Linked DNA regions of Homo sapiens. The protein of the gene in region 2 purifies or fractionates together with the protein of the main gene of each other region. This does not show direct contact. Each region holds a gene or a part of one and is shown on either strand. Other genes may lie near its edges.

The links.
Region 1: the proteins of IMPA2 (region 2) and RDX fractionate together in Homo sapiens (co-fractionation; one large-scale study listed by BioGRID). This does not show direct contact.

The regions. Positions count from the first base shown.
Region 1 is NC_000011.10:110,261,865-110,265,683, forward strand, and holds part of RDX (radixin), read right to left. Parts: intron 3,011-3,819; coding exon 2,915-3,010; intron 2,371-2,914; coding exon 2,096-2,370; intron 1-2,095. UniProt on the Homo sapiens protein: Probably plays a crucial role in the binding of the barbed end of actin filaments to the plasma membrane.
Region 2 is NC_000018.10:12,001,857-12,005,675, reverse strand, and holds part of IMPA2 (inositol monophosphatase 2), read right to left. Parts: intron 1-3,819. UniProt on the Homo sapiens protein: Phosphatase that can use myo-inositol monophosphates, myo-inositol 1,4-diphosphate, scyllo-inositol-1,4-diphosphate, glucose-1-phosphate, beta-glycerophosphate and 2'-AMP as substrates in vitro.

The DNA.
Region 1 (3,819 bases), on a different chromosome or scaffold from region 2:
GTGTGTTATTGTAGTGTTTAAGAGATTTTTTTCAATCACATGAGTTATGAAATGTAAGCCAATTACTTCATCTGCTGCTCAACCAAACAGCAATCTGGCTTAACACTGAAAGATCAATGCTGTACTTGTTTAGATAAAGCATTCCTATTCTTTAACATTTAAAAAAAAAATTAAAGTAATTCTGATTATAAAACAAAAGGTAATCCTTATATGAAATGAAATTCCACCATAATAGTCTGATTACTCAATTCAGTAATCTAAGATGAAGAATCTTAGGTTAGAATAACATTCAAAACCAGAATATAAACAGACTATCAGATATCTCATATTCCTGACTCTCTTGGTGAACAACTTACATAATTCTATCCTTTTCCAAGGTGACTACTATTGCTACAAAATTAAAGGGCGGAACACTGTGACATTTAATAATTGAATTTTGGCTGAGCATGGTGACTCACGCCTATAATCCCAGCACTTTGGGAGGCCGAAGCGGGTGGATCATTTGAGATCAGGAGTTCGAGACCAGCCTGACCAACACGGTGAAACTCCATCTCCACTAAAAATGCAAAAATTAGCCAGGTGTGGTTGTGTGTGCCTGTAATCCCAGCTGCTCAGGAGGAGACTGAGGCAGGAGAATCGCTTGAATCCGGGAGGCGGAGGTTGCAGTGAGCCGAGATCGTGCCACTGCACTCCAGCCTGGGCAACAGAGCAAGACTCCATCTCAAAGAAAAAAAAAAAAAATTAAAAAGTAATATTTGATGTTCCATCTTCTAGATTCCATCAATACTACTAAATAACACGTTTCACACTTGACAATTAAAACTGTAAATCATATAGTTCATTAATTATAATCATAAACTAGAAGGTAGCCAGAGAAGGATTATTATCCCCACTTTGCAGATTTAGATACTGAGCTCAGAGGTTTTAGGTCATGTACCTAAGGTCACATATATAGCAAAGGGTGGAATCGGTACTCAAAATTTAGGTCTTCTGATAATTTTTTCCTATGCCATATTATTTTAAAATAGCCATTATAGAAGCAGCAGTACACTGTAGATAAGAACAATGCACCAGCCTAGGAGTCTGAAAACCTAGTTTAAAAAGCCTTTTCAGAAAGTCAGAAAATTCAGCCAGGAGCAGTGGCTCACGCCTGTAATCCCAGCACTTTGGGAGACCGAGGTGGGAGGATCACTTGAGGTCAGGAGTTCGAGACCAGCCTGGCCAACATAGTGATACCCTGTCTCTGCTAAAAATACAAAAATTAGCTGGGCATGGCGGCAGATGCCTGTAATCCCAGCTACTCGGGAGGCTGAGGCAGGAGAATCACTTGAACCTGAGAGGCAGACTCCAATCTCAGCGAGCTGAGATTGCACCACTGCACTCCAGCCTGGGTGACAGAGTGAGGCTCTATCTCGGGGGGGGAAAAAGTCAGAGAATTCTATGAAGAAAACACAGCCTGCCACTTACTCTCACTTATTAAGCACCTGCCTGTGTTAGAATTTGTACCAAGCAGCAACAGTCACATCCTTTCCTCAAGTCCAAATTATCACTGCCTCCATTTATTGCTTACCCTATGGGAATGAGGAAAGAAGAGATAGATCAACCTTAGGTAATTACAGAGCATATAAATCTATGGAGGTGCTAGGTAATGATTTTTAGAAGTATACCCCATGATCCAGCTGGCAACTTAAAATCTGGAAAAAAAAAAAAAAGAGGCCAGGTGCGGTGGCTCATGCCTGTAATCCCAGCACTTTGGGAGGCTGAGGCGGGCAGATCACTTGAGCTCAGGAGTTTGAGACCAGCCTGGGCAACATGATGAAACCCCATCTCAATGAAAAATACATTAAAAAAAAAATTAGCGGACATAATGGCATGTGCCTATAGACCCAGCTACTCAGGAGGCTGAGGTGGAAGGATGGCTTGAACCCAGGAGGCAGAGGTTGCAGTGGGCTGAGATCACGCCACTGCACTCCAGCATGGGTGACAGGTCCAGACCCTGTCTCCAAAAAAAAAAAAAAACCTGAAAAACGTTTTATTTATAGACTTCTAGAATACAATTTTCAGACAATATAATGCAAACGCATGTTTCACTTACCGCTGGGGTAGGAGTCTATCATTAGCCAGGTAGCCTGGCTTATGAATCTCTTTATTGTAATCTCCATACTTGGCTTGGACAGCATAGGAAGCCAAAAGAACTGCAGTTTCTGGCGGGCAATATATCTCATCATTTAAGATGGCTTCTTTAACTTGCAAGAAGAAGAGTCTCTGGGTTATTTCTTGAATTAATTCCTCAGAAACATCTTCAGGAAAGAATTTAGCTCTAAACTTGAACTGTAAAGGATTCTCTTTTTTAACATCCTGCTGTGTTACCTGGAAAAATAATTTCAAGTATAATCAACAAAAATCTTAAGTTTACAATAATTAGACCTAGTCACATCAAATTCTTTTTGGAAGAAAATGAAGTGAAATAGATTCTAAATCTATGAAGATTTTAGTGTGTAATAGTCTAAATCTGTAAACAAATATATGTGGTAAAAGATTCTATGCTCTTGAATGTGACCTATAACTCAGATTCTAATAACCAAATTGAAAACTTTTTTTCATATTCTTGAGAAGCTTATCCTACAGGTATTTACATCAAAATTGAAGTACTTAGTATGCCATTTGTAATATCTGCTTTAATATTTGTTATAGGCTAAGTTTTCAAATAGGAAAAGTAAGCATTTCTTTTTTTTTTTTTTGAGATGATAAGCTGATGGTGCCTGATTGAATTTAAAAAAACATGGTACCTCATAATGATTAACAGATAACTACAAAAGGAAGCTTGCAATCAGTCAGACTTAGCTTTTCCAGCACAAATTCATAACTTCAACTTAACATAATTATTAGTTTAATGTTATCGTACATATTTTACCTTTTTATTTAGTTTAAGCCATGTAGAATAACCTTTGCTGTCTACATACTGCAGCCCAAAAAACCAGACCTCACGCAAACCAACTGTTTTCACCACCTAAAACACAACAACAACAAAAAAACACAATTTCAGTCCAACATACACATTGTGTCTAGATGATACTACACTTCAAAAGGAGAACAAAACTATGTAAGTATACGTATATTCCTTTGCCATAGAAAAGGCTTTCCCTAAATTTAAGATATTAAAGGAACATTTTTGAAAACTCAAATTCAAGTTTTCTATACTCAATTTTTCTTTTTTTTTTTTTGAAAAGAAGTTTTTTTTTTTGTTTTTTTTTTTTTTGTTCTTGTCACCCAGGCTGGGGTGCAATGGCACAATCTTGGCTCACCGCAACTTCCGTCTCCATTCAAGTGATTCTCCTGCCTCAGCCTCCAAAGTAGCTGTGATTACAGGTATGCACTACCACGCCTAGCTAATTTTTTGTATTTTTAGTAGAGATGGGGTTTCACCATGTTGGCCAGGTTGGTCTCAAACTCCTGACCTCAGGTGATCTGCCTGCCTCGGCCTTCCAAAGTCTTGGGATTATAGGCGTAAGCCACTGCACCTGGCCTCTAATCCTCAATTTTGTAGTGTCACTTCAATCCTCTTACTTGATCCACTTTTTCATACCTCCTTTTCCTTATCTATCATGACCTCAACAATAACAAGAGTCTTGAAAATATATATATATATATATATAGTTTTCATAATCATACGTTCCAATTTCTATTTACCCCCACAAGTACCCTATTGGTATATTTAGGGCAAATGGTATCATTTTGGTGATAAGAAAAGTCTGATATATTCCATGTTCTACCTTCACTGAGCAAGAAACCATTCTTAGAACATACCATAAATTCCAC
Region 2 (3,819 bases):
CGCCAGATGCGTGGGACACCCTTTAGGGAAGTCACCAAGCAGCTTGTTTTCCCAGCAGCAACTATTAATATAAGTTAATTTGTTAACAAAGCTTCTGCTGTGTGTAACCTTTATTATTTATCTATTTGTTTTTTAGGTTTCATTTAGTGTAACCCAGCAAGTACTTTTAGAAATTTTTTTTTTTTTTCTTGGAGACATGGTCTCGCTTTGTCAGCCAGGCTGGAGTGCAGTGGCACAATCATGGCTCACTGAAGCCACAAACCACTGGGCTCAAGCAATCCTCCTGCCTCAGCCTCCTGAGTAGCTGGGACCACAGGCATGCATCACCACACCTGACTAACTCTGCCTCACATTTTTTATGAGAATAACTCTAAGTACCCACACTGAGCACTGGATGTTTTTCAGCAGCTGATCATTCATACCCTAGAGCTGTCTTCCTCATCACCCACCTTGTGTACACCTCTGCCCATGAGACTGCCTGCCCGCCTACAAGGTGGCACGAGCATCCCCCTTCCCACCTGCCTCATGCTTGTGGGCAGCAGGGAGCAGGCTTCTGCACTGTGTGGCTGCAGCGGTGTGAAGGCCAGCAGAGGCGTGAACCGTGCTCGGTCTTTGGAGGCACCAAAAATACTTCCCTGGTACATGGGAAGAGATGCACAATTTTTATTCACTTAAACCTGATTTTACTCATGTAGGAAGCTAATACCTGTGAGATGAAAGACAATGTTTTACAGCTGTCTGCAGAGGGAGTGGGGAGAGTCTGCTCTGCAGACATGACTGTAGACAGATGTGTGAAATCATAAAGACCTTCCTAAAAGCCACTGGAACATCTACATAGAATCCACAATATAGGCAGGGCACGGTGGCTCACGCCTGTAATCCCAGCACTTTGGGAGGCTGAGGTGGGTGGATCACTTGAGGTCAGGAGTTCAAGACCAGACTGGCCAACATGGTGAAACCCCGTCTCTACTAAAAATATGAAAATTACCCAGACATAGTGGTGCATGCCTGTAATCCCAGATACTTGGAAGGCAGGAGAATCGCTTGAACCCGGGAGGCGGAGGTTGCAGTGAGCAGAGATTGCACCACTGCACTCCAGTCTGGGCTACAGAGCAAGACTCCATCTCAAAAAAAAAAAAAACCCACAATATAAATAGGAAAAAAAATGCACATGACTAAATTTAGGGAAAAAAAGAACATTCCATACGTCTATCCAATAGACAAGAGGAAAATAGCAACTGGATTAAGGCTAAAAGTTTGGTAATAAGTTATTATAGAATATTATATCCTACTGCATAACTTAACCACTTTTCTTTTTTAAAAAATAGTTTTAACAAACCCTCCTTATAATTTTGACAGCTGAGTGCCTTTAAGCCCCTTTTTTCTTTCTTTCTTTTTTTTTCTTCTGGCTACTTAGTCTGTTTAGTCTGTGACAAGAAGGTCAGGATCATCCCTGCTGTCCACAAAGGAGATGATTTATGATACTCTGTCCCCATCTTCACAAGCCACTGCCCAGTGGGAAAGCAGCTGGATGTCAATGTTCAGCTGGTGGTGGCTGGGAGCATGTTTTTCCCATGTCAAGGATTCTGTTTGATGTTTTGCTTGACTCACGCATTCAACAGACACTGCTCTGTGCTGGGCACTGCAGGGCAGCAGGTTACATGGGGGCTCTGGAGCAGGGCTGGGAAGACAGCTAAAAACACTAGACCCTTGAGCTGCTGACCTCATCTCTGGGCCTAGGCCAACCCAGAGAAGCTCCAACAGGCTGCTCCACAGAAGGGACAAGGACGGGGTTTCTATCACTATAGCTCAGGGATGCTACTGAATCTTTTCCAAGTAGCTACACTTGTATCTCACTCAAAATCATCATCTGAAAACAGGTTTAGGCGCCCCACAAAGCCAGGGCATGGCAGGAGACAGCTATGTGGCCAAGGCCAACAGCACACTCCAAAGACCCAATCTATAAAAACCCGGCCTTACCATGCTGCCTTTTTTTTTTTTTTTCCTTTTCTTTTTTTTTTTTTTAAGATGGAGTCTCACTGAGATGCCCAGGCTGGAGTGCAATGGTGCAATCTCAGCTCACTGCAACCTCCACTTCCCAGGTTCAAGCGATTCTCCTGTCTCAACCTTCCAAGTAGCTGGGACTACAGGCATGCGCCACCATGGCCCAGCTAATTTGTTTTCCTATTTTTAGTAGAGACGGGGTTTCATCATATTGGCCAAGCTGGTCTCGAACTCCTGATCTCAAGCTATCCACCCACCTCGGCCTCTGAAAGTGCTGGGATTACAGGTGTGAGCCTCTGTGCCCAGCCCTGGTTTGCTTTTTGTCATGTTACGAGTTAAATGCTGGGACTTCAGGGATGACCATGGTCAGGTCCCTCATTCACAGGTGAGGAGTTCGAGGCCCTAAGTGGTGAGATTTGCCAAAGCTGCTAGGGCCAGTGACAGAAGCAATTTTATTTATTTATTTTTTATTTTTTGAGACAGAGTTTTGCTCTTGTTCCCCAGGCTGGAGTGCAGTGGCGTGATCTCAGCTCACTGTAACCTCCACCTCCCAGGTTCAAGCGATTCTCCTGCCTCAGCCTCCTGAGTAGCTGGGATTACAGGCACGCACTACCATGCCCAGCTAATTTTTTGTATTTTTAGTAGAGATGGGGGTTTCACCATGTTGGCCAGGCTGGTCTCGAACTCCTGACCTCAGGTGATCCACCCGCCTCGGCCTCCCAAAGTGCAGGGATTACAGGTGTAAACCACCGCGCCCAGCCTATTTATTTTTTTGTTTTGAGGCAGGGTCTCACTCTGTTGCCCAGGCTGCAGTGCAGTGGGGTTTTTCATAGCGGCTGCATCAATTTACATTCTCACCAACAGTCTGCAAGGGTTCCTTTTAATCTACATTTTTTTTTTTTTTTTTTGAGACAAGGTCTTGCTCTGTCACCCAGGCTAGACTGCAGTGGCAGCATCACAACTCGACCTCCAGGACTCAAGCGAGCCTCTCACCTCAGCCTTCCAAGTAGCTGGGAGCATAAGCGTGCACCAGCATGCCCAGCTGATTTTTTAATTTTTTTGTAGAGATGGGGATTCACCATGTTGCCCAGGCTGGTCTCAAACTCCTGGGCTCAAGCAATCCTCTGACCTTGGGCTCCTGAAGTGCTAGTATTACAGACATGAGCCACTGCACCCCACCAGAAGGAAGTTTAAACCTTATCATTCTTTGATTCAGTCTACACCTGTCTTCCAGGTCAAGGAGCAAACCTTTGGATTTCATGGATGAGTGAAATAAAATAATAAAACTGGGGAGCCTGTATCAGGTTTTTAAAAAAATGTTATTAAGTCTATTTTTAATATCATTTCATGAAAGACTAAAATCAAGGAAAGAGAAAAGCTCAGAATAAAAGTCTTTCCTAAAGGAGGATGAGAGGCAACTTCAAATTAAATATATTGTTTAAGGGATATATTTAAATACTTAGAAAGCAGAAAAAAATCACAATGTCCTATTTTACAATATGTATACAATTTTCTCTCATCACAAATTTATCAACTTTTCTATGATCTAAAATACAATTAAATCCCCAAAATTTACTTTCTTTTTAATCTTAGTCATTGGCAAAAAAAACTCACTTCACATAAATATGTTGAAAAACAACTGCATTTGATGTCAATTTTTGAGGCACACTGAGCAGAGAAGAGAACAGCTGCTTTCACCGTGTCCACACATTCACCCTCAGAGCTAGGGAAGATGGGGGTGACACACAGACTGGGGCTGTCCGTGGTGCAGCCACAGTCCACTGACTTGTGGGCTAGAGCTTGGGAACCCCAGAT